2 separate regions of the Homo sapiens genome follow, and region 2 is linked to region 1. The links come from fine-mapping of genetic effects on gene expression. A gene starts in region 1. The other region holds a variant in brackets. All regions are shown on one strand. Distances are between the middles of the regions.

Region 1 (15,312 bases):
CCTGAGTAGCTGGGATTACAGGTGTGTGCCACCATGCCTGGCTAATTTTTGTATTTTTAGTAGACACGGGGTTTCACCATGTTGGTCAGGCTGAGCTCAAACCCCTGACCTCGTGATCCACCTTCCTCAGCCTCCCAAAGTGCTGGGATTACAGGCATGAGCCACCGTGCCTGGCCTACCATGAATATTTTTTTAAAGGTAGCATCCAGAATTAATAATCTTCTCCAACAAATTTCATTAGTAGTCAGGGAACTGCAAATTAAAATCAAAGTAAAATACTACTTTCCACTCATTAGACTAAAATCCATTCAAGTCTGATAATACCTAGTACTGAGTTGGAGTAATAGAAACTGCTAATGGGACAGTTAGTTGGTCATCACTTTGGAGAGAAATTAGTCAGTATCTAGTAAAAGTTAGTGATACACCTTCCATTTTCATCTGTTCTGTGCTGCTACCAAAGAATACCTGAGACTAGGTAATTTATAAATAATAGAAATGTATTTCTAATGGTTCTAGAGGCTGAGAAGTCCAAGATTGAAGGGCCAGCCTCTGCAGAGAGCCTTCTTGCTGTGTCATGCCATGGCAGAAGGGCAAAGAGAGGGCAAGAGAGAGCAAAAGCAAATTCACAGCATCAATCCCTTTTATAATCAGCATTACTCTATTAATGAGGGCAAGACCCTCATGGCCTAATCACCTCTAAAAGGTCACACCTCTTAATACTATTGCAATGGTAATTAAGTTTCTAATACATACTTTTTGGGAGACATTTTCAAACTATAGCACCTACCCTATAGCCCAACATTTCTACTCCTAGGAGTATGCCCTAGAGAAATTCTGCATAAATATCTAAAGAGAGGCCATTGTTGCATTGTTAGGTACTGGAAAATTGGAATCAATTACTATGTCTACCAGCAGCAGAAGATGGCTTTTTAAAAGTTTTGGTTTATTCATGAAATGGAATATTGCATAAAGTATGCTCCATCTCACCAGATGAAAACATTTTTCACTAGGACTATTTCAAAAGTAGTCTTATCACTGGGCTTCTCTATTATGCATAAAAATTTTAAGTGAACATGTTCTTTGACCTAGTACTCCTACTTTTAGGAATTTGCCCAAAAGGGACAATTATACTACTGGGATAAATCTTTGAATCATAAAGTAAGTTGTAAATGGTACAAGCAGTATGTCTTATTTTTATTTAAAGCACATTAACAATATTACACATATAGTAAAAAATAAATAAATAAAACATGTGAATAATAAACACCCAATTTAGAACAAGTGTTGACAGTGGAGAGGGAAAGAGAGAGAAAGAAGGAGAAATGGGGAGTGGGAGCGGGTACACAAGGAAATTTTAGTTGCAGCTCCAAATTTTTACTTTTTACACAATGAAGCGAATATGGCAAAATAAGATTTGTTAAAGTTGGGCAGCAGGTACACAGATATTCTATCATTATCCTTTGAATATTTCTGTAGATTTAAGTTGTCCATTAAAAAAATAAAATACACACATAATTTTTAAGATTAGTTTTTTCTATTTCCTGGCCTTCGCATGCACTGTTAACTTTACCTGGAATTCTTTATGCAGTAATTAAGAGCAAAGGTGTAGAGCAAGACTGCTTGAGCTTGGATCCCAGCACTGAGTTGATTTAGGGAGAATAACTTAATCTCTTAATCCCAAGAGAAAATATGATATAATAGTTTTGAGCTCATAAAGTTTTCATAAGCATTAAATGTGACCTATATATGTAAAGCAATCTAACAGTGCCTATAGTATTTATAAGTGTCTGCATTACCAAATTCATCATTATCATGGCATGTCATGTCACCATCCACTACATTACCATCACTGTCACCATCATCATCATCACCACCACCATCATCATTAACTCCCTTTGTCTAGTCAATTCATATTTGTTCTTCGTATTTTAGATACCTGTTAAAATATTTTTTCAAAGATGTCTACTCTGATTCTTCAGTACAAATTTGATTTAATAAGATCCTATCATTTTGTCCAAATACTTATAAAAATTTGTAGTTCTATATTTAATGTGTTTTGTTTGTTTAACATCTCTCTCCTACATTGTGTTAAGTTTTTTAAAGAGAAGGTAAGGGTTAAAGAGAGACATAGAGAGAGAAAGAGAGACAGAGAGAGAGAGAGAGCGGTTCTACAGCAATACAGGTATATTAGAAAAACCTGCAAAGGTGGGGACCAGCTTAATGCCAGAGCCCCCCACTGCTTATAGGCTGGGGTACTTATAGGTCTGGGGGTACTTATAGGCCTGGGTGGGTGGGGTCTGAGCAGTATGGCTTGCTGCCCAAGAAGATGTTGATAAGACGTTCCCATGATGAGGCAGTTTGGTCCTTGCTTCCATAGAGTGTGATGCTTCTTGCACTTTTTCCCAGCAGAATGTGGTAGGGATGTTCCTTCAGGTGGGCCTTTGCCTGGCAGGGTATGATAAGGATGTTCCTGTGCCTTGGAATCAGGTAGTTAGACAGGATGTTTCTCACAGCCTGAACCCCCATGGAATGTTTCACTTTGACCAGGGTCTGCGAAATAGCAGGGGGCTTACAAAATGGTGTAGTTTGGACTAACACCTTGGAACACAAAAGTTTCTTGGGGCCAAGGCTGGCGTATTAGTCTGTTTTCATGCTGCTAGTAAAGACATACCTGAGACTGGGTAATTTATAAAGAGAAAAGAGGTTTAATGGACTCACAATTCCACATGGCTGGAGGCCTCACAATCATGAGGGAGGCAAAGGAGGAGCAAAGGCACGTCTTACATGGTGGTAGGCAAGAGAACGTGTGCAGGGGAACTGCCCTTTATAAAACCATCAGATCTTGTGATACTTATTCACTATCAAAAGAACAGCACGGGAAAAATCTGCCTCCATGATTCAATTACCTCCCACCAGATTCCTCCCATGACATGTGGTAATTATGGGAACTACAATTCAAGATGAAATTTGGGTGGGGACACAGTCAAACCATATCAGCTGGGTATGTTTTATTCACCTTTTTATACCCATTGTCATGTCTTCTGGACAAACAATGGATGTAAAATGGTATAGACTCCTGAGTACTCATTTGTTGAATGACAAATCTATGAACCATTTGACCAGTATGCAGCAGCCATTAAAATTATGTTTATGAATAATTTACAGCATGGAAAAATTTGGGGTTGCTAGTAGAAAAACAAAAAGGTACAAAAGGATATATATAATAAGCCTACAATGCCATATAAACAATACTAACAGCAAAAACAAACCTATAAATTGGGGGAAGATGGGGCAGATAGAAGTAACCTAAAATACTAACATGTTGTTTTGGGGTCATGAAATTATAAATGATTATGCACCCCTTAATTTTTACTTTCTATGTTTGATTTTTCTATGGTAAATGCATTTTTATTGAGGTGGAATTCACATAACATGAAATGAAAAATTTAGTGGCATTTATTATATTCACAATATTGTACAACCACTAGCTCTACTTCCAAAACATTTTCATCACTCCAAAATAAAACCTTGTACCCATTAAGCAGTTACTCCCCATTATTTCCTCTCTTAGCTCCTAGCAACCACCAACCTGCTTTCTGTCTCTAGGGATTTATTTATTCTGGATATTCCATAAAAATGGAGGCACAATATGTACCTTTTATGTCTGGCTTCTTTCACCAAGCATGTTTTTGAGGCTAATCCACATTGCAGCATGTATCAGTACTTCATTTCTTTTTATGAATAACTGTATACAGACCACAATTTGTTATCCATTTTTTGGTTTATGGACATTTGGGTTGTTTCCATCTCTCAACTATTGTGAATAGTGCTGCTATGTATATTTGTGTACAAGAATTTGGTTACCTATTTTCAATTCTTTTATGTATATATCTAAGATGAAATTGCAGGGTTATATGCTAATCCTATGTTTAGCATTTTTTTTTAGGAACCATTAAACTGTTTTCCAAATCTGATGCCCCATTTTATATTCCTACTAGCAATGTAAGCAAGTTCCAATTTCTCCATATCCTCAACAACACTTGTTATTTTCTATTTTTGTTATAGCCATTCTAATGAGTGTAAAGTGATATATCATTGTGGTTTTCTTTGCATTTTCCTTATGAACATTGATGTTGAGTACCTTTTCATGTACTTTTTGGTCATTTATATATCATCTTTGGAGAAATGCCTCTTCGTGTATGTTTTGCCCATTTTAAAACTAGATTGTCTTTGTTGTTGACATGCATGCATTCTTTAAATATTCTGCATACTAGGCCCTTATCAGATATATGATTTGCAAATGTTTTTTCTCATTTTACTGGCTGTCTTTTCACTTTATTGATAATGTCCTTTGATGCCCAAAAGTTGTTTATTTTGATGAAGCATATTTATCAATTTATTTCTTTTATTGCTCATGCTTTTGATGTCACCTCTAAGAATTTATAACCAAATCAGAGGTAATGAAGGTTTACCCCTCTATTTTCTTCTAAGAGTTTTATAGTTTTGACTCATTTACTTAGGTCGCTGATTCATTTTTAGTTAATTTTTGCATATGATGTGAGGAAGAGGTCCAACTTTACTCATTTGCATGTGGATATTCAGCTGTGCCAGCACCATTTGTGAAGAGTCTATCATCTCCTCATTTAATAATAGTATTGACACCTTTGTTGAAAGTCAATTGATAATAAATGTATGAGTTTATTTCTGGAATCTAAATTCTATTCCATTGATCTACATGTCTATCCTTGTATCAGTATCACACTATCTTGATTACTGTAGATTTGTAGTAAGTTTTGAAACTAGAAAGTGTGAGTACTGCAATATTCTTCTTTTTCTTTTTTAAAGATTGTCAGGGCCTCTTGCAATTTAATAGGGATATGAGGATTGACTTTTCTATTCTACAAAATTAAAATTTTGTTAGAGATTGCATTGACACTGTAGGTAGCTTTCAGTAACATTGCCATCTCAACAATTTTAAGTATTCTAATACATGAATATGAGCTTTCTTTCTCTTTATTTAGGTCTTCTTTAATTTCTTTCAGCAGTGTTTTGTAGTTTTGGGGTACAAGTCTTTCACCTTTAAATTTTGGTGAAATTTATTCCTAGGTATTGCATTTTTTTATGCTATTGTAAATAAAATTATTTTCTCAATTTCCTGTTGGATGTTCATTGCAGGTGTATAGAAACTCAACTGATTCTTTGTGTTGATCTTATGCTGAGACCAGCTCAGTTGGGGAGACCCTAACCTAGAAGCACTAGAGGAATTAAAGACACAAACACAGAAATATAGAGGTGTAAAGTGGGAAATCAGGCGTCTCACAGCCTTCAGAGCTGAGAGCTTCAAACAGAGATTTACCCACATATTTATTAACAGCAAGCCAGTCATTAGCATTGTTTCTATAGATATTAGATTAACTAAAAGTATCCCTTATGGGAAACGAAGGGAAGGGCTGAAATAAAGGGATGGGTTGGGCTAGTTATCTGCAGCAGGAGCATGTCCTTAAGTCATAGATCACTCATGCTATTGTTTGTGGTTTAAGAATGCCTTTAAGCGGTTTTCTGCCCTGTGTGGGACAGGTGTTCCTTGCCCTCATTCCGGTAAGCCCACAACCTTCCAGCGTGGGCATTATGGCCATCATGAACATGTCACGGTGCTGCAGCGGTTTTTATGGCCAGTTTTGGGGCCAGTTTATGGCCAGATTTTGGGGGGCCTGTTCCCAACAATCTTATACCTTGCAATTTTGCTGAATTTGCTTGTTAACTTTGATAGTTTTTTTGAGGATTATTTGGGATTTTCTACATATCATGTCATCTGTGAATAAAGATAGTTTTGCTTCTTTCTTTCTCATTTGGATGCCTTTTATTTCCTTTTCTTGCCTAATTTCCCTGGCTAGAACTTCCAGTATGATGTTGAATAACCATGGTGAAATGGGCATTCTTGTCTTTTTCCTGATGTTAGAGAGAAATTTTTCAGTCTTTAACCATTGAGTATAATGTTAGCTGTGGGTTTTTTACAAATATCTTTTATCATGTTGAGGAAGTTCCTTCCTACTCCTACTTCTTGGAGTGTTTTTGATATAAAGGGTATTTAATTTGTCAAATGCTTTTTCTGTGTCAGTTGAGATTATCATGTGAGATTTTTTTTCCTTCATTCTATTAGTGTTGATGTTACATTGGTTGATTTTTTATGTTGTACTACATTTGCATTCTTTATATAAATTTCACTTGGTCATGGTGTATAACCCTTTTAATATGCCATTGGATTTAGTTTGCTAGTATTTTGTTTAGAGTTTTTGCATCTATATTCATAAGCAATATCAGTCCACAGGTTTTTTGTGGTTTATTTGTCTGGCTTTGCTATAATGGTAATGCTGTCTTCTTAGAATGAATGAGGGAGTGTTTTCTCCTCTTTCATTTTTTAAACGTTTGAGAAGGAGTGATATTAATTTTTCTTTAAATGTTTGGTAGAACTTACCAGTGAAGCCGTCTGGTTCTTAACATTTTTCTGTGTTGGGAGGTTTCTGATTACCAATTTGATCTCTTTAATTTTTACAGATCTTTTCAGATTTTCTATTTCTTCTTGAGTAACTTTTTAGCAATTTATGTATTTTAGAAATTTGTTCATTTAATCTAGGTTATTTAATTTATTGGTGTGCATTTTTTCATAGTATTATCTTATAATCTTTTAATTTTTGTAAAGTTGATAATGTCCCCACCTTACCTGATCTTAGTTATTTGTGTCTTCTCTGTATTCTTTTTGTCTTCTTCTTCTGTCTTAGCATAGCTAAAGGTTTGTCAACTTTGTTGATCTTTTAAAGAGTCAACTTTTGCTTTCAGCATGCATTACTTTTTAAATAGAAATATATACACCTAAGTTGCATTACAAAGGAGTTGTCCTCCACACACTTATTCTTTCCCACCATCAGAGGTTTATGGTCCCCGCAAAAGTCACCATCAGTTGGGCTCAACTCCAATCAGTCATGGTAGGTCAGGGTCCATCTCATTGTCTCCATCACTCATGCCCACCCAGGGTAAGTCTAATCATGTTCACCAATCAGAACCTCTGCCACATCAGCTCTGTGGGTTTCCTCTCATGCCATCTGTACCAACAATGAGCACAGTCTGGGTTTCCTGATGTTTTCTATAGCATGGTGCCCCTCCCTGGGACACCTCAGAAGCCACAATGATATTCATTAAACTTCTTCCTGCAAGTACTCCCTCTATTGCTCCTTCTACTCACCAAGCTTAGTGTCAGGGAATATGCTGGTGGGGAGTATGAATCTTAGCTTCTCACTCCCAGACTCGGCTCCCAACCTGCTGTTGCCAAGTCTTGGGGACATCTATAAATGCCTTCTAAATACCTGTCTTGGCCTATCCCCAGCCACAGATTCCTCCCTAGAGCAGGCTACCTCTGAGGCATCTATACTGAGATCTTAATCACAGAGACATTTAAAACATCTAGGCTACAAAAGAATTCCTACTATAGGGTTCAAATGAATTTCTTTCCGTCACTTGAGACAGCTTTTTAGCAAGTACATGTATTAAAGATTCTGATTTCCCCTTTTTTCTCCTACAGTTTGTTTGGCCTAAAGGTATGACATCTAATCTGCTGCATTTACACTCTAAGTCAAAATTACCATTTTGTTCTTTTAATTTCTATTTCTAATCATACATTCTTGTCTACTCCTGGTTCATCTGGAGACAAAGTTGAACTTAGAAGATGGAGGAGAAATTCTTATCTGCCCTCTGCTAGTTGACACTTCCTTTCCAAGAATCATTTGCAGTTGCTGGGCTTTCTTGCTGTGACTCTATGCCCTGTTGTGTTACTTTTTCATTTGTGACAAAAACAGTGGTAATAGTTTGCTTCATTTTTATTATGAAGACTTGACCAGGATAGGTAGGAACATAATTACTGCTTTTTCTGTGGGCATCATATTGGTCCAGATCATGTTTAACCAGAATTGAAGATGTAAAATCCTAGAACTCACTAATCTATTTTAGTAGGTCACAGGAAGCATGCAAACCATAAAAACCGCAATGAACCAAAAGCATCTGTGTTGACAAGAGGCAAGAATTTCTCTATTTTCTAAAGGCACTAACTGAACAAATCTATTGCCCATTACTTAGGAAATTGCTAAGGGCATCGTTAAAGTACTTCAGGCTGTTGAAAAACCTTTTCTGTCTTCTTGCCCCACCACCAATTCTCTCTAGCTATGCTTTCTCTCACATGTTCTTGCCATCCATGGAGTGGCAGAGAGGTTCTGAGTACAACTCTAACTTTCAGTTTCAATGGCCTAATCCCCAACTCAACTGCTGACCTTGAGTGTAAAAATAAACAAGATCTTAAACATCTTAGGGCCAGCATTCTGGGTCTTCTTTTGTTATTTGGGGAGCATAAACTATTCTCATATCATTGGCTTGCAGAAAAATTGAGCTTCTCCTCTTCCTTGCCCCATGTCACCTTGAGGTGACCACAGCCCTGCCTTCTATGTAATCCTGCTTGGTCAGCAGGCACATCAGAGCTCAGTGGCTTGTGACATACTTTCCTTCAAGCCTGCTCGAAGGGCCATACTCATCATTGAGACTGGGAACCTTAGAAACCATGAACCCAGTGCCAATGGGTAGATACAGAATTCTCAAACTCATGAAAAAACATCCTTTTTAACTCTCTCCGTGTGCATAAAGAATTCTAAGATGTACTGATCAAGATTCCCAATTTTCTAACTATCTATTAATATATGGACGAGGTAAGAAGAAAGTTGCAAGAAAAAAATTTGTTTGACTTGACGGTTGTGTGGTTATTTGCCACACTCCCCCAGATCCACTCTGAGTCCCAGGATGCTGATTTTAGGGGCTACATTGCCTAGACTGTCCATTATTCCCTCTTCCCATCTGGTTCAGTCACTGGGAAGCACTGGTAGGAGGTCAGAGTGGGAGAAGGAGGTTAGGATACTTTCTGCCCCTGCTGTCCTACTGCTTTGCTGAACTTCTAGCAGTGGCTGAGCCATCAACCTGCAGCTCTCAATTCCAGCTGTCTGTAGCACTCAAGTGGTATTGTTTATTCTTTTGATCCTTCTAGCTGTTAAGGAAGAAAAAAATAATTTTTTCCTCAATGCTCATAAGTTCTTGGAATGGACCCCTGTAACAAAAGACAGATTAACACGAGAAAAGTTTATTAACGTACATATTTTATACGTACATAGGAGCTATCCAGGGAATGAATAATTCTTAAAAAGGTGACTTTGAATTCCAGCTCATATAGCATCTTCAACAAAGTTCAGTAACATTTTAGAGATATGACAAGACAAAGAAAATGAACTTTGAGCCTCTAGGGACAGTGACTTGTAGGAAGGCAAAAGGAATAAATGGAGGTAAAGGCTGGTTAGTAATACTTGTTAATGAAGATTCCTCTGGTGCCATCTCCAGGTCCACAAGGATTTAAATTTGTCTTCAGTGGTGAACCTTTGTTCACCCTGGCAGAAGGTGTGGAGGGGGGTGCAGATCCGTTTTGTCTTTGTAAGTCTATATCCTGCTTTTAGACAAATAAAGGGAGGGAAAAGAGCTTTCCTTCATCTGCTTCTTAATTGCCTTCAGCTCAACAATCCTTATGCAAAAGAGGTACATTTTAGGGTGTCAAATTCTGGTCTCCCACAAAGCATAGGGATGACAGACCACCTCACCATCCCTGTTGCTTCTTTTAAGCCTGCTCACCCCTCCAAAAATATTTTCATTCTATACTGTCTCTTCAAAATCTCAGCGGAGGGTGCCCTCTGTTATCCTGCCCTCTGTGTCAGTATAAGCCAAAGGTTTGAATCCTGGCTCTGCAACTATCTACCTCTGTGCCTCTCCTTGTTTATGAAATTACAGGGCTGGAGACAAAGATCACAATGTGAAGACAAAATTGGAGAGCGGTCCTAATCAGCCAGAGCAAAATTTCTGGCTCTTGCTCTTCCCCATCCTGGGTTGAATCATAGGAACAGGTGGCAAGATGCCAGGGTCAGGAGATTCCAGAAGTGGCAGCAAGCTCAGTGTTACCAGGTCAGGGATGACCTGTCTTATTATTGAAATCTCAGAGATATGCTCCAATTCCGGCCCAGAGACACATTGAGAGACAACTGGGGAACTTGCTATGTTCCTGAACAGGCAATGAGCTGTCTTCCAAGAAAAAACCTGAGACCCTTCAAGTCTCAGGTCTTACTTAGCACATATACCAGGTCTTACACAGGACACATGGTTACAACTGACTGAAATCTGGGCTGGGTGTAGGAGCTCACACCTGTAATCCCAGCCCTTCAGGAGGCTGAGGCAGGCAGATTGCCTGAGCCCAGGAGTTCGAGACCAGCCCGGGCAACATGACAAAACCCCATCTCTACAAAAAATAGTCAGGCATGGTGGCATGCACCTGTAGTCTCAGCTACTTGGGAGGCTGAGATGAGAGGATTGCTTGAGGTTGAGACTGCAGTGAAGCATGATCATGCCACCGCACTCCAGCCTAGGCAACAGAGCAAGATCTTGTCGCAAAAGAAAGCAAAAACACAACATAACACAACAACAACAACAACAACAACAACAGCAAAAAAGCCAACTTCTTGAAATCTGGAAAGGACACCTGGACTGCCCTGAGCATTTGATTGTTGTTGGCTCTAGCAGTGGATGCATCCTTCAACCTCTGGCACTCTGCAGGGCTCAGACTGTTCTGTTCTGTTTGTTACCTGTGGAGTGCCTGCCAGACCCTGCTCTAGCTGCTTTAGGTCCATTTACCCTCATAGACCCCCAGTCTTGTTATTCATATTTCATATTTGGGAAATGGAAACTTAGAAACTTGCCAAGTCCACAGCATGAGATCCTGCCTCCGGTGTCTGCTGGATTCCAGAAAGTGCCAGGGGCCAACTTAGATGACACCATGTTCTCTGCACAATCTTAGGAATGCTCCTAGTCTGATGTCCCCATTGCAAAATTTACATTATCTTTTAACAAAACGTCTTTCCAAGGAGGGGCATTTAAAATAACTGAGGTTCTTCTTGCTAAGGACGTTCCTGACACAAGAGATAATTTAGCATTTCCTTTTCATTAAAAAGTTTGAAATCCTGTAATTTGTGATAATGTGGATGAACCTAGAGGATGTTAAGTGAAATAAGCCACACACAGATAGACAAATACCACGTGATCTCACTCTTATGTGGAATTTTTTTTTAAATAAGTTGCTTAGCCGGGCATGATGGCACACACCTGTAATCCTAGCTACTCAGGAGGCTGAGGTGGGAGGATGGCTTGAACTCAGAAGGTGGAGGTAGCAGTGAGCTGAGACTGTGCCAGTGCACTCCGGTCTGGGTGACAGAATGAAACCCAATTTAAAAAAAAAAAAAAAGTTGCTATCTTAGAAAAAGACAGTAGAGCAGTGGTTACCAGAGACTGGGGAGGAAAGAGAGGAGGTGAGAATGGGCAGCAGTTGATCAACGGGTACAAAGTTACCATGAGATAGGAGAAACAAGTGCTGGTGCTCTGCTCCAAGTAGGGTGACGGTAGTTAATAATGAATTCTGTATATATAAATAGCTAGAAGAGAGGGTTTTCAATATCATTATTATTTCAAAAGAAATGATAAATGTTTCAGAGGATGGATATGTAATTACCCTGATTTGATCATTGCACAATGTATACATGTAGCAAAACATCACATTGTGTCCCATAAATATATACAATTATTATGTGAATTAAATAAAAAAAAATTTTAAAGTCTTATCTAAATGAAATTTCTAACCAGATTCTGAATCCATGATACCACTGAAACCAGCACACATGATCGCAGTAAAACCTCATTATACTTCCTCCACTATCACCAATACCCTTTATTCTCTGGAACATGAAACATTCTGTTGTGCTCATATCATGCAAATTATCACTAGTAGGAGAGCAGAGAGTGGAAATGTTCCAGGTATAAAGACCCACAAGATAAAGAAGCTCAGAGTCGTTAGAAACAGGAGCAGATGTACAGGGTTTGCCTGACTCACACTCAAGGTTGCATAAGCAAGATTTCAAAATTAATCCTATTCTGGAGACCTCAACCCAATGTACAATGTTCCTGACTGGAAAAGAAGAACTATATTTTTCTGATTTTTTTTTTCAAATCTTTACCATTAGTTGCCCTGTATCTCCGCCTTCACTTTCTGCAGGAAACTTTATTTCCTACTTCTGCATGCCAAGTTTCTACCTCTAGATCTGTTTGGTTCAGTTGCTGAGAAGCCTGACATACCAGGACTGCCTGAGACAAGCCACAAGCTGGTGAGTTGTAGGCATTTTTTCCATTACTTTCTGATTCATAGGCTCAACGCACCTCAAAGCTGGAAATGCCGGGTCTGGGTACACCCTGGGGAACTGCAAAGCCTGCACACTTGGGGGGAATGATCAAGATGAGAGGCAGGGGTGGGGATGGCATGTGCACCAGGAGATGTTAGAGAAACCCTGAGGAAGAGCAGCGTGCAGCAGGTGATGGGGGAGAGTGGGCAGCAAGCGAGGCCAGGACAGCCACTCTGCTCAGTCACCAGTCCACACACCCAGGGGCTCACTCTGCCCCTCTGAGCACCCAAGGACGTTAAAGAGCTGGAACTGTTAGTCTAAATATAGGACCATCCAAGCTCTGAACCAAAATGTGTCCCTTGCCTCAACTCAGGAGATCCACAGAGGCAGAAGTAAGGAATTTATTTTCTGAAAGATAGATTTCTATCAGTTCTGGGTGACATGTTCTGACACTTGAAATGACACCTAGGACAGCACATTTCAGGCATCTTGCTCATTGTTCACTGTAGTAGAAGCTACATGCTAGCCAGTTGTAAAAATGAAATTAAGTAATGTGTGCACAGCATTTAACATAGCATCTGAGCTTCAGGAGCACTCAATTAATGACCACAGTTGTGATTCTTTAGGCAGATGCATTTTTTTCCAACTTTGATCAGAGGTCTTATTTAGCTTCTCCAGATTTCAAGAATCTGGCTCAGTGATATGAAATACAAGACTTGTGAAAAGTGTCAATTGCAAGAGAAATGGAAGGATAAAGTATACAGGTGGGTGGAAAAGAAATTCACAGTCACTGCCAGAAAAAAAATTCTTGAGAATCAAGTCCTGATGATGTTAGGGCTTATAGTTCTTATTATAAAGAGTTTTATGTACTCATTCAGTGAACATTTATTGGTGCCTCCTTTAGCCAGGTACTATCATAAGAGCTGAAAATAGAAGCATAATCCAGTCCTTGATCTTGAGGAACATGCTGTGTGTAGCAGATAACATAATAAGTGCTTATCTAGATGCATGCAGTGTTATGTGATAAGAGTAATATGACAGAGGATACAGATTAGGCTTCACAGAGAAGGGGGATTTGAGCAGGAGGTATTGAAGGGTGAATAGAAGCTCACCAATCATTTTGGGCAGAGGGGCAAGGACCTGCAAAACCACTGAAGCATGAAGGAAATGGTGAGTTTAGGGAAAATGAAGAGAAGATGGCTGTGACTGAAGCACAGGATTTGGGATTGGAGAAGGGACTGGAGGTGAGGCTGAAAAGAGGCAAACTCAGAAAAGATGTTGTGCTGGGCAGTCTGGACATTATCTTTGAAGCCCACCACATATAAGTCATAGGGCTACTGGAGGTTTTAAGCTAAGAGTGACTATTCAATTTCAACTTAAGAGAAGATAGGTTGAGAGGGAACATGGCTTGAGATGAGCCATGAGCAAAGGAAAGACTACAACAAAGCCAGGAGTGAGGAGTGTGTGAAGCAAGAAAGTGACAGTTGAAAGCAGTGCAGAGGGGATGAATCTGAGAGGCATCTATGAGGTGGAACTCAAATGACATGATAATAATACAGGGCATTTCTCTGTGTCAGATGCTGTCCTAAGTCCTTACTCCATTGATCTTCACAGCAACTCAGCATAGTTAATATTTTATGCATAAAGAAATCGGCACTTGAAGGAGTAATTGGCCCCAGATTACACTGCCTATAAGGATTCAAATCCAGGTTTGTTTGGCTCCAAAAACTGGCTCCTAATTTTCAGAAGGAGAAGCAACCCAGGGCAATGCCCAATTTTGCTTCTTAGGCAATGGAGGAATCCACAATCGGAAGGAGTTTTCAGCAGTGCCCCATTTGGGGTGGGTTGAATTTGAGGTCCCTGCATGATACCCACTTTGCTCACTTCAGTGCCTAAAACTGAGTATGGTTCATAGTAGGTGTTCAATAAGTGTTGATGCAGTGAATACATGCATGGGGAGATATGCATCAGGCAATGGGAAATTCAACTCTAAGGCTTAGGGGAAAGCTGGAGCTTGAAGACAGAGCTTTAGAAAACAGTAGCATAGAAGGGAGTAGGAACCATGAGTTTAGACAATACAATTCAGGAAGAACTTTGTAGCAAGGATAAAGAGGCAAAAAATTAAAGAGGTGAGAGCTAAGTGTGGTGCCTGGGGAATCTTAAGGTGTGGGCACGGGGAGGAGATGCCAGCAAAGAACATGAATAAAAAGCGGTAGCACAGCCCCTCCCATCTGGAAGCCAAAAAGAATTGTAAATGGAGGAAGTTAGCAGAAGGATCAAATACTTGAAGAGGGTGGAATTGGAATAAAACCAGGGCATTTGAAAAATTGGGTTGTCACTGCAATCTTAACAAGAGAAGTTTTGGCAGGATGATGGAGGCAGAAAGCTGAGAGAATCATCAGTTAGAACGTTTTTGACTTCAGAGAACAGAAAATGCAGTTCATAATGGCTTTAAAACAGGGGCTTGTTTTTCTCCCAGCAATTTGAGAGGCCAAGGCGGGTGCATCAGGAGGTCAAGAGACCGAGACCATCCTGGCCAACATGGTGAATCCCCATCTCTACTAAAAATACAAAAATTAGCGGGGCATGGTGGTGCACGCCTATAGTCCCATCTACTCAGGAGGCTGAGGCAGGAGAATCACTTGAACCCAGGAGGTGGAGGTTGCAGTGAGCTGAGATCATGGCCACTGCACTATAGCCTGGAGACACAGCGAGACTCCGTCTCCAAAAAAAAAAAAAAAAGAAGGCAGAAGGTGAATAGTTCAAGGGTGGGTTTAGGACTCAGTGATAATAGGATTCTGCCTGGCTTCTCATGGTTCTCTAGGTCTTCCATTCATGGCACCATGCCCTCACTAGGCATGCTGCCAGAGCAGGAGGGGCAGGTGGAGGGTTCTCTTGTGTCTGTCTTATCAGGGAAGAAGAGCTTTCTCAGAAGCCCCCAGCAGACTCCCTTTTCATATTATGGTCCAGCAATGAGTCACAGACCTATGCACCACCTGCAAAGGAGCCAGAGAAA
Region 2 (15,312 bases), 96 kb before region 1:
CCCTCCTCCCACTCTCAAGTAGACCCCTGTGTCTGTTGTTCTCTTCTTTGTGTTCATGAGTTCTCATCATTTAGCTCCCACTTATAAGTCAGAACATGTCGTATTTGGTTTTTTCCCTGCATTAGTTTGCTAAGGATAATAGCTTCTAGCTCCATCCATGTTCCTGCAAAAGACACTATCTGTTTTTTTATGGCTGCATAGTATTCCATGTGTATATGTACCACATTTTCTTTATCCAATCTGTCATTGATGGGCATTTAGTTTGATTTCATGCAAAGGCTATTATTTTTCATACAAAACATTCCAAGTTCTGCCAACTATGGCTGATGTTTTGGGACTGTTATCATCCTACTTCCTTCTATAGTCTAGGTTGATACTAACCCTCTTAAAATTTGGTGCCTGGAACAGAACATAATATTTCAGATGTGTAGTCTGGACAGTGCAAAGCAGAGTAAAAATTATTCTACTCCATCCTTTCATACACTTAAGAAGAGTTTATTAAGCATCTTTCATTTGTCAGGCATCATGCTGGACACTAGGCCTGTACTGTCCACTATGGTGGCTACTTGCTTTTATGCGTGTCCGTGTGAAGAGACCACCAAACAGGCTTTGTGTGAGCAACATGGCTGTTTATTTCACCTGGGTGCAGGCGGGCTGAGTCCGAAAAGAGAGTCAGCGAAGGGAGATAAGGGTGGGGCCGTTTTATAGGATTTGGGTAGGTAGAGGAAAATTACAGTCAAAGGGGGTTTGTTCTCTGGCGGGCAGGAGTGGGGGTCGCAAGGTGCTCAGTGGGGGTGATTTTTGAGCCAGGATGAGCTAGGAAAAGGACTTTCACAAGGTAATGTCATCACTTAAGGCAAGGACCGGCCATTTTCACTGCTTTTGTGGTGGAATGTCATCAGTTAAGGTGGGGCAGGGCATATTCACTTCTTTTGTGATTCTTCAGTTACTTCAGGCCATCTGGGCGTATATGTGCAAGTCACAGGGGATGGGATAGCTTGGCTTGGGCTCAGAGGCCTGACATTCCTGCCTTCTTATATTAATAAGAAAAATAAAACAAAATAGTGTTGAAGTGTTGGGGTGGCGAAAATTTTTGGAGGGTGGTATGGAGAGAGAATGGGCGATGTTTCCCAGGGCTGCTTCAAGCGGGATTAGGGGCGGCGTGGGAACCTAGAGTGGGAGAGATTAAGCTGAAGGGAGGTCTTGTGGTAAGGGGTGATATTGTGGGGATGTTAGAAGAAACATTTGTCGTATAGAATGATTGGTGATGGCCTGGATATGGTTTTGTATGAATTGAAAAACTAAATGGAATAAGAGAAGGAGAAAAACAGGTATAAAAGGTCTAAGAATCGGGAGGACCTAGGACATCTGATTAGAGAGTGCCTAAGGAGATTCAGCATAGTCCTGCCAGCAAAGATTATTTATTTACTTCAAGAGTTAAGAGCGGCGGTTTGGGGATAGCACGAGGAGATATCAGCTGTGATGGCTTGAAAAAACAGTGTAAACTGGCAGTGTAAACAAGAGCAGGGCATGTATGAGTAGTTGAGAACAGAGAACAGGAGTATGACTAGATAGAAAATAGTAGGGATGACAAGTTTTTTTGGGGCACAGTCTAAGGTGGTCCGGTGTCTGGAATGAGACTGGGGGCCTAATGAAAAGGAGCATCTATACAGGAACTTAAATGGGCTGTACCTTATAGCATTCCGAGGACAGGTCTGACTTCTGAGAAGGGAAAGTGGTGAAAGTATTGTCCAGTTCTTTTTAAGTTGGTGGCTGAGCTTGGTGAGGTGTGTTTTTAAAAGACCTTTAGTCCGTTCTACTTTTCTTGAAGACAGAGGACTATAAGGGATATAAAGGTTTCACTGAATACTAAGAGCCTGAAAAACTGCTTGGCTGATTTGACTAATAAAGGCTGGTCTGTTATCAGACTGTATAGAGGTGGGAAGGCTAAACTGAGGAATTATGTCTGACAGAAGGGAAGAAATGACTGCGGTGCCCTTCTCAGACCCTGTAGGAAAGGCCTCTACCTATCTAGTGAAAGTGTCTACTTAGACTAAGAGGTATTTTAGTTTTTGTGACTCAGGGCATGTTGAGTAAAGCTAATTTGCCAGTCCTGGGCAGGGGCAAATCCTCGAGCTTGATGTGTAGGGAAGGGAGGGGGCCTGAATAATCCTTGAGGAGTAGTAGAATAGCACATAGAATAGCAGATGGAACACTGAGAAGTGATTTCCTTGAGGATAGATTTCTACAATGGAAAGGAAATGAGAGGTTCTAAGAGGCAGGCTAGTGGCTTGTACTATAGCATAGCCTGCCTTTGCTGGTGTGTGGTGATTAGGCCTGGTGGAACTGCCATCAATAAATCAAGCATGATCAGGGTGAGGAACAGGAAAGAAGGAGATATGGGGAAATGGGGTGAATGTCAGGTGGATCAGAGAGATACAGTCATGAGGGTCAGGTGTGGTTTCTGGAATAATGTGGGAGGCTGGACTGAAGTCCGGGCCAGGAATGATGGTAATTGTGGGAGACTTAACAAAGAGTGAGTACAGCTGAAGGAGCCAAGGAGCAGAAAGTATATGCATCAGGTATGAGGAAGAAAATAGATTTTGGAAGTTATGAGAAATGTAGAGAGTGAGTTGAGCATAGTTTGTGATTTTTAGGGCCTCTAAAAGTATTAAAGCAGTGGCAGCTGCTGCATGCAGACATGAGGGCTAGGCTAAAACAGTAAGATCAAGTTGTTTGGACAGAAAGGCTACAGGGTGCAGTCCTGGCTCTTGTGTAAGAATTCTGACTGCACTAACCATGCCTAGGAAGGAAAGGAGTTGTTGTTTTGTAAGGGATTGAGGTTTGGGAGATTAATCGGACAGGATCAGCAGGGAGAGCACGTGTGTTTTTATGAGAATTATGCCGAGATAGGTAACAGATGACGATGAAATTTGGGCTTGACTGAAGTAATGGGGGCTGTCTGTGAAACCTTGTGGCAGTACAGCCCAGGTAATTTGCTGAGCCTAATGGGTGTCAGGGTCAGTCTAAGTGAAAGCAAAGAGAGGCTGGGATGAAGGGTGCAAAGGAATAGTAAAGAAAGCATGTTTGAGATCCAGAACAGAATAATGGGTAGTAGAGGGAGGTATTGAGGATAGGAGGTTATATGGGTTTGGCCCCACGGGGTGGATAGGCAAAACAATTTGGTTGATAAGGTGCAGATTCTGAACTAACTTGTAAGGCTTGTCTGGTTTTAGGACAGGTAAAATGGGGGAATGGTAAGGAGAGTTTATAGGCTTTAAAAGGCCATGCCTTAGCAGGCGAGTGATAACAGGCTTTAATCCTTTTAAAGCGTGCTGTGGGATGGGATCTTGGCATTGAGCAGGGTAAGGGTGATTAGGTTTTAACGAGATGGTAAGGGGAGCATGATTGGTCGCCAAGGAGGGAGTAGAGGTATCTTATACTTGTGGGTTAAGGTGGGGGAATACAAGAAGAGGACGCAAAGGAGGCTTTGGATTGGGAAGAAGGGCAGCAATGAGATGCGGCTATAGTCCAGGAATAGTCAGGGAAGCAGATAATTTGGTTAAAATATCTCGGCCTAATAAGGGAACTGGGCAGGTGGGGATAACTAAAAAAGAGTGCATAAAAGAGTATTGTCTAAGTTGGCACCAGAGTTGGGGAGTTTTAAGAGGTTTAGAAGCCTGGGCATCAATACCCACAACAGTTATGGAGGCAAGGGAAACAGGCTCTTGAAAAGAAGGTAATGTGGAGTGGGTAGCCTCTGTATTGATTAAGAAGGGGATGGACTTACCCTCCACTGTGAGAGTTACCTAAAGCTCGGCATCTGTGATGGTCTATGGGGCTTCCGAGGCGATCAGGCTGTGTCAGTCTTCAGCCGCTAAGCCAAGAAGGAGTCAGTCAGAGAGCCTTGGGCCAGAGTTCCAGGGGCTCTGGGAGTGGCTGCCAGGTGAGTTGAACAGTCTGATTTCCAGTGGGGTCCCACACAGATGGGGGAATCCTGGGCTGCAGGCATTCCTTGGCCTGGTGGTCAGATTTCTGGCACTTGTAGCAAGCTCCTCGGGGAGGAGGTTCTGGAGGAACGCCTGGCCACTGCGGTTCAGGTGTTTGGAAGTTCTTGTGTGCTGGGGATGTGGCTGGGGTTTGTCTCACAGTGGAGGCAGGGAATTGCAACTTTTTTTTTTTATCATTGTACACCTTGAAGGTGAGGTTAATTAAGTCCTGTTGTGGGGTGTGAGGGCCAGATTCTAATTTTTGGAGTTTTATTTAATGTCGGGAGCAGATTGGGTAATAAAATGTATATTGAGAATAAGATGGCCTTTTGACCTTTTAGGGTCTAGGGCTGTAAAGCGTCTCAGGGTTGCTGCCGAATGAGCCATGAACTGGGCTGGGTTTTTATATTTGATGAAAAAGAGCCTAAACGCTTCTGATTTGGGATAAAGAAAAAGGAGCATTAACCTTGACTATGCCTTTGGCTCCAGGCACCTTTTTAAGAGTAAATTGCTGGGCAGGTGGGGAAGGGCTAGTGATGGAACGAAACTGTAAGCCGGACCAGGTGTGAGGAGGTGAGGCGATAAAAAGATTACAGGGTGGAGGAGTGGAGGCTGAGGAAGAATTGGGACCTAGCTTGGCCTGGCAAGGAGGGGAGAGGTCAGATGGGTCTGTAGAAAAGGAAGATTAGAAAGACTCAGCGATGCTTGGGGTTGGGACTGAGGGGACAGGCGGGAGGGAAACAAGGAAGATTTGGGACAAGTTGCACTGGGCACAGAGACTAGGAAGGGACTGATGTGTAAAAGAATGCCTGGACATCAGGCACCTCAGACCATTTGCCTATTTTAAGACAAGAATTATTTAGATCTTGTAGGATGGAGAAATCGAAAGTGCCATTTTCTGGCCATTTAGAGCCATTGTCAAGTTTGTATTGGAGCCAAGCAGTGTTGCAGAAGAAAATAAGGCGTTTAGGTTTTAGG[A/T]CAGGTGTAAGTTGAGGTTTTAAGTTCTTGAGGACACAGGCTAAAGGAGAAGAAGGAGGAATGGAGGGTGGAATTTTGCCTATAGTGAAGGAGGCAAACCCAGAGAAAAGAGAGAGTAGAGACATGGAGGGAAGGGGTTCAGGGGTTCTTACCCTCCAGAAAAGCGGGAAGGGGGGTTGGGGCATGGAAATAAGGGATTGGGGCACAGAGATAAGAGGTCTGGGTGCGGAAATAAGGGATTGGGGCACAGAGATAAGAGGTCAGGGTGAGGAAATAAGGGATTGGGGTGCAGAGATAAGAGGTTGGGGTGCAGAAATAAGGGATTGGGGGTTCTTGCCCCCTAGAAAAGTGGGACTTGCCACTAAGAGTGAAGGAGAAGGGGTTGAGGGGTACTTGCCCCTCCCCCAGAAAAGCAGAGAAGGGGTAGAGACATGGAGAGAAGGGGTTGAGGTACTTGCCCCTTTCCCAGAAAAGTGGGACTTGCTGCTAAGGGTGAAGGACCAAGGCAGGCGTCCCTGCGTGGTCTGACACCCTTGAAACGTGGGTGAATAATCAGAGAGGCGTCCCTGCAATGATTAAACACCAAGGGAAGGCTGCCTTCCCAGTCTGTGACCGGCGCCGGAGTTTTGGGTCCATGGATAAAAGGTGTCTCCTTTGTCTCTACCAGAAAATGAAAGGAATTGAAATTAAGAGAAGGGAGAGATTGAAGTGTGGCGCCAAGATTGAAAGGAGAAAGAGGTTGAGGGATAGTGAGGGAGGTTGGAGAAGAGAGTAAAAAGAGGCCGCTTACTGGATTTGAAGTTGGTGAGATGTTTCTTGGGCTGGTCGGTCTGAGGACCTGAGGTCGTAGGTGGATCTTTCTCACGGAGCAAAGAACAGGAGGACAGGGGATTGATCTCCCAAGGGAGGTCCCACAATCCGAGTCACGGCACCAAATTTCATGTGCATCCTTGTGAAGAGACCACCAAACAGGCTTTGTGTGAGCAACATGGCTGTTTATTTCACCTGAGTGCAGGCGGGCTGAGTCCGAAAAGAGAGTCAGCAAAGGGAGATAAGGGTGGGGCTGTTTTATAGGATTTGGGTAGGTAAAGGAAAATTGCAGTCAAAGGGGGTTTGTTCTCTGGCAGGCAGGAGTGGGGGTCACAAGGTGCTCAGTGGGGGTGATTTAAAATCACCTAGCCAGGATGAGCTAGGAAAAGGACTTTCACAAGGTAATGTCATCACTTAAGGCAAGGACCAGCCATTTACACTTCTTTTGTGGTGGAGTGTCATCAGTTAAGGTGGGGCAGGGCATATTCACTTCTTTTGTGATTCTTCAGTTACTTCAGGACATCTGGGCATATATGTGCAAGTCACAGGGGATGCAATGGCTTGGCTTGGGCTCAGAGGCCTGACACTTTCTACATGTGGTTATTTAAATTAAATAAAATGAAAAGTTCAGTTTCTCAATTGCAGTAGCCACATTTCAAGTGCTCAATAGCCATGAGGCTAGTTTCTGTCTTTTTTTTTTTTTTTTTTTTTTTTGAGACAGGGTCTTACTCTGTCTCCCAGACTGGAGTGGAGTGGCACGATCTCAGCTCACAGCAAACTCCGCATCCCAGGCTCAAGAGATTCTCCTGCCTCAGCCTCCCGAGTAGCTGGAATTACAGGGGTGCACCACTACTGCCCAGCTAATTTTTTTTTTTTTAAAGTAGAGACAAGGTTTCACCATGTTGACCAAGCTGGTCTTGAACTCCTGACCTCAAATGATCCACCCACCTTGGCCTCTCAAGATGCTGGGATTGTAGGCATGAGCCACAGCACCCAGCCAAGTGTCTCTCTTATCAGACAGCACAGATACAGAACATTTCCACTAATACAGAAAAATTCTATTGGACCACTGCACAGATAACTAACTTTTCTGGATACTCCAGGTTTTTTGAGAAAAGAAATGAAGGAAGGGAAGGAAGTGGGAGGGGATCAGCTTAATTGCATAGATGGGAAGCAAGTTGAATATCTAGATGGGTAATTGGATGGAAACAAGAAGGGATAGCTGGTGGAGAGGTGGATGGAGAGTCAGGTGGTAGATTTCATTTGTTCTGGATGATACAGCAATATAGCCTACCATTAAATTGGCTCTTGTGTTTGCCATTCATGGTGATAGCTTCTAAAGAACTTGCAACTAAGGATATTCTTTATTCTACCCCTAAGTTTCCCCTTTTCTTTCCACTACATTTAAAATAGGTTGGAGGGTTACATGACTCAGGGATTTAAAAAAAAAAAGTTCAAATTTAGGAGGGACTTCATGTCACATAGTCCAGGAGTTGTCAACCTTGGCTGCACAAGGGAATCACCAGAAGAGCATTAAGAACCACTGAGAGCCAGACCCCATCTCCAGAGACTCTGATTTAATTGTTCAGGGTTATAAGCTGGGGATTTTCAAGAGCTCCCCAGTGACTCCCACATGCAGCCAGGACTGAGAAATGCTGCTCTAGCCAATCTTCCTCCCTCTGGGGGAATCCCTTCTACCCCGTCCCTGATAGGAAGTCACTCAGCCTCTGAGTGAATTCCTCCAGTCACAGCTCACTCAAGACCTCACATGGCACCCATTTCATTGCTGGATAATTCTACTCAAGGTGTTCTTGAGTGGTGGTTGAATTTGCATCTTTGAACTACCTCTTGCTGGTTCTGGGAGGCTTTGCAGGGAGTCACACATAATTCTGATTCTCATCTGCCCAGCCAGTATCATACTCTCTCCCCTCCCCAAAGTGGATTTTCTCCAGGATGGATACGCTTGGCTTCTTCAACTCATCTTTACTGGGTAAAGCTTCCTCTTGACTGCATTTCAATTGGTCAATGTTTGCATTAAATGAGCCCTGGACATATTTGGACCACTTTCGGATGCTGTGAAATGATCCTTCCCACTATCTGCATATAACACTTTTATTAATTTAGATTAAATTAAGATTAAATTTAACTAAGTTTACATGCAGGAAGTTTCTTTATTAACCCCATCACATGTTAACCTTTAAGGGAAACTAGAATTACCGGATTCTTTTGGAGTATTTTTGTTCTACTTTTATTTTAGGTTCAGGGGTAAATGTGCAGGTTTGTTATACTGGTAAATTTTGTGTTGATGCCCAGTGTGGGTAATCTAAATTCTGTTAATAGAAAACTGTTTAAATTCCACACAGTGGAATACCATCTCGCTATTAGAAAGAATGAGGCCGTTCTACAAGTATTGATATAGAAAGATTTCCAAGATGTAAGGTTTAAAAAGGCTCAGAAAACTTGATGTTTCTTACTCTGATTTATGTACCAAAGAATGAGACAGTTCTACAAGTATTGACATAGAAAGATTTCCAAGACATAAAGTTTAAAAAGTCACAGAAAACTTGATATTTCCTACTCTGATTTATGTACCAAAAAGCCACTTATAATTATGTATATAAATTCAGCCACCACTCAAGAACACCCTGAATAGAATTATCCAGCAATGAAATGGGTGCCATGTGAGGTCCTGATTTATGTACCAAAAAGCCACTTACAATTATGTGTATAAGTACATAAACAAATATCAAGAGGGCTCGACAACAAACTCCCCTCTGAGGAGGAGAGGAAATTGAGAAAGGGGAGAATAAAAGAAACTTTACATTTGTCAAAAATAAAATCAGATCAAAATTTAAAGTTGCAGAAGTTTATTGTGCACACAAAAGAACAGTTTGGGAGTGAGGAGACATAGATCTGAAAGTGTAGGGATTCCCACTTAGAGCACTTACAGCATAGTTTATAAAGCATAAAGGGGAAGTATTTTTCCCCCCTGGGTTCAAAGTTCTTTTTTAAAAAAAAATCAATAGGTTTTAGGGGAACAGGTGGTGTTTGTTATATGAATAATTTCTTTAGTGGTGATTTCTGAGATTTTGGTGCACCCATCACCTGAGCAGTGTGTACACTGTACTCAATGTGTAGTCTTTTATCCCTCACTCCCCTCCCATCCTTTCCCCTGAGTCCCCAAAGTCCATTTTATCTTTCTTATGCCTTTGCATCCTCACATCTTAGCTCTCACTTATGAGTGACAATGTACAATGTTTGGTTTTCCATTCCTGAGTTACTTAACTTAGAATAATGATCTCTAATTCCATCTAGGTTGCTGCAAATGCCATTATTTCATTCATTTTCATGGCTGAGTAGTATACCATGGTGTTGCTATAAATGTGTGTGCAAGTATCTTTCTCATATAGTGACTTATTTTCCTCTGGGTAGATACCCAGGAGTAGGATTGATGGATCAAATGATAGATCGACTTTTAATTCTTCAAGGAATCACCACATTGTTTTCCATAGGGGTTGTACTAGTTTACATACCCATCAACAGCATAAAGTGTTCTCTTCACCACATCCACGCCAACATCTATTTTTTTTTTTATTATTATAGCCATTCTTGCAAGAGTAGGCAGTATCACATTGTGGTTTTGATTTGCATTTCCCTGATAATTAGTGGTGTTGAGCATTTTTTCATATGTTCGTTGGCTATTTGTATATCTTCTTTTGAGAATTGTCTATTCATGTCCTTAGCCTACTTTTTGATGGGATTATTTGTTTTTTTCTTGATGATTTGTTTGAGTTCCTTGTAGATTCTGGATATTAGACCTTTATCAGATGTGTAGATTGCAACGATTTTCTCCCAATCTGTTGGTGGTCTGTTTACTCTGCTGATTATTTCTTTTGCTGTGCAGAAGCTTTTTAGTTTAATTAAGTCCCATCTATTTATCTTTGTTTTTGTTGTATTTGCTTTTGGGTTCTTGGTCATGACCTCTTTGCCTAAGCCAATGTCTAGAAGAGTTCTTTTGAGGTTATCTTCTAAAATTTTTATGGTTTTGGGTCTTAGATTTAAGTCTTTGATCCATCTTGGGTTGATTTTTGTCTATGGTGAGAGATGAGGATCCAGTTTCATTCTTCTACACATGGCTAGCCAATTATCCCAGCACCATTTGTTGAATAGGGTGTCCTTTCCCCACTTTATGTTTTTGTTTGCTTTGTTGAAAATCAGTTTGCCTTAAGTATTTGGGTTTATTTCTGGGTTCTCTATTCTGTTCCATTGGTCTATATGCCTGTTCTTATTCCAGTACCATTCTGTTTGGGTGACTATGGCCTTATATTAATAGTGTAGTTTGAAGCTGGGTAACGTGATGCCTCCAGGTTTGTTCTTTTTGCTGTGTTGCTTTGGCAATGTGGGCTCTTTTTTGGTTCCATGTGAATTTTGGGATTTTTTTTCAAGTTCTGTGAAGAATAATGGTGGTATTGAGATGGAAATTACATGAATTTGTAGGTTGTTTTTTGCAGTATGGTCATTTTCACAATATTGATTCTACCCATCCATGAGCATGGGATGTGTTTCCATTTTTTGTGTCATCTATGATTTCTTTCAGCAGTGTTTTGTAGTTTTCCTTGCAGAGATCTTTCAGTATTTTGAACTTTTTTTGTGATTTGCTGTTATACATTAACATGGTGTTGCAACAAGAACATTTAAAGCTGATTTGTCTATAGCAGATTGGTTTAATTTCACTGAATCATGCTGACAATGACATAAACTTTATATTTTGTGTTTCATTTATTATTACATCTGGCTTTTCAGGGAAATCAGGATGACTTCAGTCTTGGCTATGTGGCTATGGGTGGTTGGCCTTGAGGAGTTTGGGCTGTAATCCTGAAAAACACAATCCTGAATGCCATAATCCCAAATGTTGAAATCCAGAAAGACTAAAATTTTAAATCCAAAACCACAATCCCAAAATATTAAAATCCTGAAAATATAACTCTGAAAACAATAATTTAAAAGACATTTATTTATATTCCTATAGGTGGATTTATTTTGAAAAACTTATAAAAACACAACAGAACACTTCACAATAGGGAATAATATATATATTTTTGCAAGCATAAACACTCAGGTATACTAACAACAGTCACAAGGGTATAACAGTTATGAGCAGATGAATTTTATTCATAAATAAATAGTGTCAAAATTTTATTCATAAATAAATTGCGTAAAAAATCACAATGTATAAATGCATATCACTATAGTTAATAATTGTGTGCACCCAGCTTTATAAACTGTAGTCATCTGAAATACTGTGATGGACATCCTAATTCTTTGGATGAGATCAATCGAGAATCATGATGGGTCACCACCATATTTGCCAGTTGCCCAAAGAGCCAAGACCTCGAGAAATTGTATCTTTCACAAACACAGAGGCACAAAAAGGACATCTGTTTATTTATCAAGGAGGTCTTCACATTTGTGCACACACACACACACACAATGCTTACACACAAAGTTGTAGTAGTAATGTACCTTCAGGAGTCAAATTTGCAAAAAAAAATTGCATAAAACATAATAAAACTCTCTAAATGTCTTTACACAGTTTATAACTCCACTACTGAAAATGATGCAAAGATTAAATACATAGCATAGTGAATTGGCACTAGGGGTGAAGGAACAGAAGTGATACACAATTGAGTAACTTGGCAAGGGAAATTTCTTGTATTTTTTCCGTGTGTTTTCACTTCTAAGCTCTTCAAAACACTTGCTGCACTTGTATTTGGAGAGTCGTTGTTGTCTACACATTGCCTAAGTATATGCTGTCCATTTAAAAGTCCGTTTATTGCTTGGCTGTTGCAATTAAAGGATTGGTGCTTTTGTAGCACCAATAATAATCAACTTTAACATTGTTATCTTTCACCATTAAAGTAACCTCATACACTTAGCTTGTCCCAGGCTTTTTTTTTTTTTTTTTTTTTCTGGGAAAAAAGTTCACCAGTCTCTTCCATTGAGAGTAAAGGAAGAGTAATGGAATATTGTGATGCTCATTAGACACTTAAGATGAAATTTTGAGTAGGAATTTGGGTCAGGGCTTAAGACATCAATTTGAGAGTCCTTAACATGTATTAGTATTTAAAACCATAATGGCATATCATTCCAGTAAGAAGGATGATACTCAGCTTCCTCAATACCAAATCTATATTAGTCTGGGTTCTCCAGAGACAGAACCAATAGGATATGTATGTAGATATATGAGATGGGATTTATTAGGATAATTGGCTCACAATTAAGGCGGCTAAGAAGTCCCACAACAGACCATCTACAAGCTGGAGACCCTGGAATACAGGTAGTGTGGCTCAGTGTAACTCTGAAGGCCTCAGAAACAGAGAAGCCAATGTTGTAACTCTCAGTCCTAGGCTGAAAGCCACTGAGTTGGGGGAGGTGGGTAGTTGTATAGTTCAAAGGCTGGTGAGCCTGGATTTCTGATGTCTAAAGCAACAGAAGAAAAGTCTGTTCCAGCTCTCAAAGACAGACCAATTTGCGTTCTGTAATTGTTCTCTTCAGGCCCCCAGCTGATTGGATGGTGCCTGTCAACCCTGAAAGCAGATCTTTCCCACCTAATCCACTCAGACTCACACAGTAATCTCTGGAAACACTTTCACAGACACACTCAATACAATGCTTCAACAAGTTTCTAGTTATTCCTTTACTCAGTCATGTTGACATCTAAAATTAAGTCCACAGATCCACCCTTTGTCAAGTTGACATGCATACACATCTCCTTAAACCATACTTAATTTCCAAATAAAGATAATAGCAAGTAATAGTTCTTCTTAACACGATGCAACTAACATTATGCAACTACGGTGTGTACAACCAGAAATGCACTAATCCTTCCCCAGAATTCAGCTTTCAGGATTTCAACATTAGGAATTTTAGTCTTTTAGGATTGTGATTTTGATCTTTTGGGATTTCAACATTATAGCATTTGGGATTGTGTTTTTCAAGAATATGATCAGCACTGGGCCTTGGGACATATCTAAACTGTGGCCTTCATTTTTATTTTTCTTTAACAATTCCCCACTTTTGGTCATCCTCTCGCTTGAACTGAGAATGTGACTGGCTATTACCCTTGGTTACTACATGTTGCTTTCCTTTCTGTAGACATTTATAGGTCACAAACTAGAATCTCAGTAAGTTATTTTGATGACTCTTATTCATATAGTTTTGGTTTTCAATCCTCACGGAGATCAACTGTTGAGTTAGTGGCTGCTGACAAGCATTTAAGATCCTTGTGAGACTACATTGCATAAGGGATATTATCAATATGACTAATAGGAGGATAATACCAAGAGTCTGAAAAATACCCCAAAACCAACCAAACCAACCTACTTAAGAGCCAAGATTTAGCCAATCAATTGTGCTTCCCTGATCTGGTAGAATAGTAGGATCTGATCTCTTAGATCTCTAAGATTTAGGGCTACAATTCCTGATTCAATGACATAGAAACAGCATTTTAAAAAATATGGCTGTTTCACTCTAATAGATTTTCTTGGCTTGCAGTTTGAATGTCTCTGGTAATGTCAGTGGAGGTCCAGGGAACTTTCTGAGTGGCTGTGCAGCAACATGCACAAAAGATGTTCATATACAAGCTGTTGTGGTGATTTCTCTGAAGTTTATTTTAGGTAATTCAACTTCAGCTTGCAGGACTGTAAGGCTAGAAACAACCCTAGTTCAAAACTGTCAGAAACCTGTATGTGTCAGAGTCTTTCTATGAATTTCATGTCATTTTGTACCATAAGGTATTTGCAAAAGCTTTCAGGAAAGCACCAGAGTAAAACAATAACTGCTGTGGATGAACAATGGTTTAAAATGCCCCTGAGAATTTACTATAATGCAGTTGAAGAAGAAATTTGGTTATTTCTGTGATATACAACATTTTGGCTGATAAAATATATACAACATATGGCTGATATACAACACATGGCTGGTAAAATTATACCAGGACATATCTGATATTTAGGAAATTCATATAATTTCTGAAACACATATTAATAAGATATATCTATACAAATATAACATAAAGAAGATTTAACATTATTTCTTATTTGGCAGTTCTTCCCATGCAATGTAATATGTTAAATAAACTTAATTAGTCTAACATCTCTCTTTTTATAATATAAGGAGAGAATAAATTCCTTTGAGGTTTTTCCAGAGGCTCTCTGCAAAATTCCAAAGTTAGCTTAAGGTAAAAAAAGACTGTATGTAGAATTGATTTAGGAAGGTTGTCAAAAATGTCTAAAGATTTAAAGCACTTGATTAAATAGGATCATAGTTCACTGTGAAACAATACTTAGGTATCCATTTAGCCAAAGTGACAAGTAAAAGATTTCAAAGGCAAATACAGAAAGTTACATAGTTGTATTAGTCCATTTTCATGCTGCTGATGAAGACATACCTGTGACTGGGCAATTTACAAAAGAAAGAGTTTTATTGGACTTCCAGTTTCATATGGCTGGGGAGGCCTCACAATCATGAGGGAAGGTGAAAGGCACATCTCATATGGTGGCAGACAAGAGAAGAAGAGCTTGTGCAGGGAAACTCCCCTTTTAAAAACCATCAGATCCCGTGAGACTCATTCACTATCAGGAGAACAGTGCAGGAAAAACCCACCCCCATAATTCAATCACCTCCCACCGTGTGTCTCCCACGACACATGGGGATTGTGGGTGTTACAATTCGAGATGAGATTTGGGTGGGGACACAGCCAAACCATGTCATTCTACCCCGGCCCCTCCCAAATCTCATGTCCTCACATTTCAAAACCAATCATACCTTCCCAACAGTCACCCAAAGTCTTAACTCATTTCATCATTAACTCAAAAGTCCACAGTCCAACATCTCATCTGAGACAAGGCAAGTCCCTTCTGCCTATGAACTTGTAAAATCAAAAGCAAGTTACTTACTTCCTAGATACAATGAGGGTACAGGCATTGGGTAAATACAGCCATTCTAAATGGGAGAAATTGGCCAAAACAAAGGGGCTACAGGCCCCATGCAAATTCAAAATCCAGCAGGGCAGTCAAACCTTAAAGCTCCAGAATGATCTCCTTTGACTCCATGTCTTGCATCCAGGTTATGCAGATGTAAGAGGTGAGTTCCAATGGTCTTGGGCAATAGTTAAGAAAACAAAAATGAAAAATCTTAGTTCCTGTAACACAAATAACTCTATTTTCTTAAGTAATCAAAGATCTTGATAAACACAACATGAGGCAGAGGAAATTATTTTGATGAGAAATAAAATCTGCTCTTTTAGGCAGATCACTTAAAAGGCAGAGAAAACACTTTCATTACTCTTATCAAGAGTAGACTAATAATCCAAGAAAACTTTGTGGTTTTTAACAGAAAGAAGACCAAATTCTAGTTTTGCATCAGTGTACTTTGATATTGAAAGCCCATTTTAAAATCCTTGTAATAAATTCATTCAATTTTATCCAGTTTAACCACATAAGATTCTCTCTCTCATTCTTTCTCTCCCTCCTAC

What was found. PIP is the estimated chance that this variant, and not a neighbour inherited with it, causes the effect.
Region 2: its variant is fine-mapped to the expression of CCR2 in whole blood (INTERVAL, PIP 0.93).

The regions. Positions count from the first base shown.
Region 1 is chr3:46,341,897-46,357,208 of GRCh38, forward strand. It overlaps CCR2 (C-C motif chemokine receptor 2), which reads left to right and starts at 12,215. Exons shown (of 2, transcript NM_001123396.4): 1 at 12,215-12,281. RefSeq lists a silencer at 2,633-2,839 and an enhancer at 8,332-8,481.
Region 2 is chr3:46,245,703-46,261,014 of GRCh38, forward strand. All of the region lies in intron 1 of CCR3 (C-C motif chemokine receptor 3), which reads left to right. Among named protein-coding and RNA genes, the nearest start is that of CCR3, 11 kb to the left of the region's middle. The variant A/T (reference allele first, on the strand shown) is at 4,968.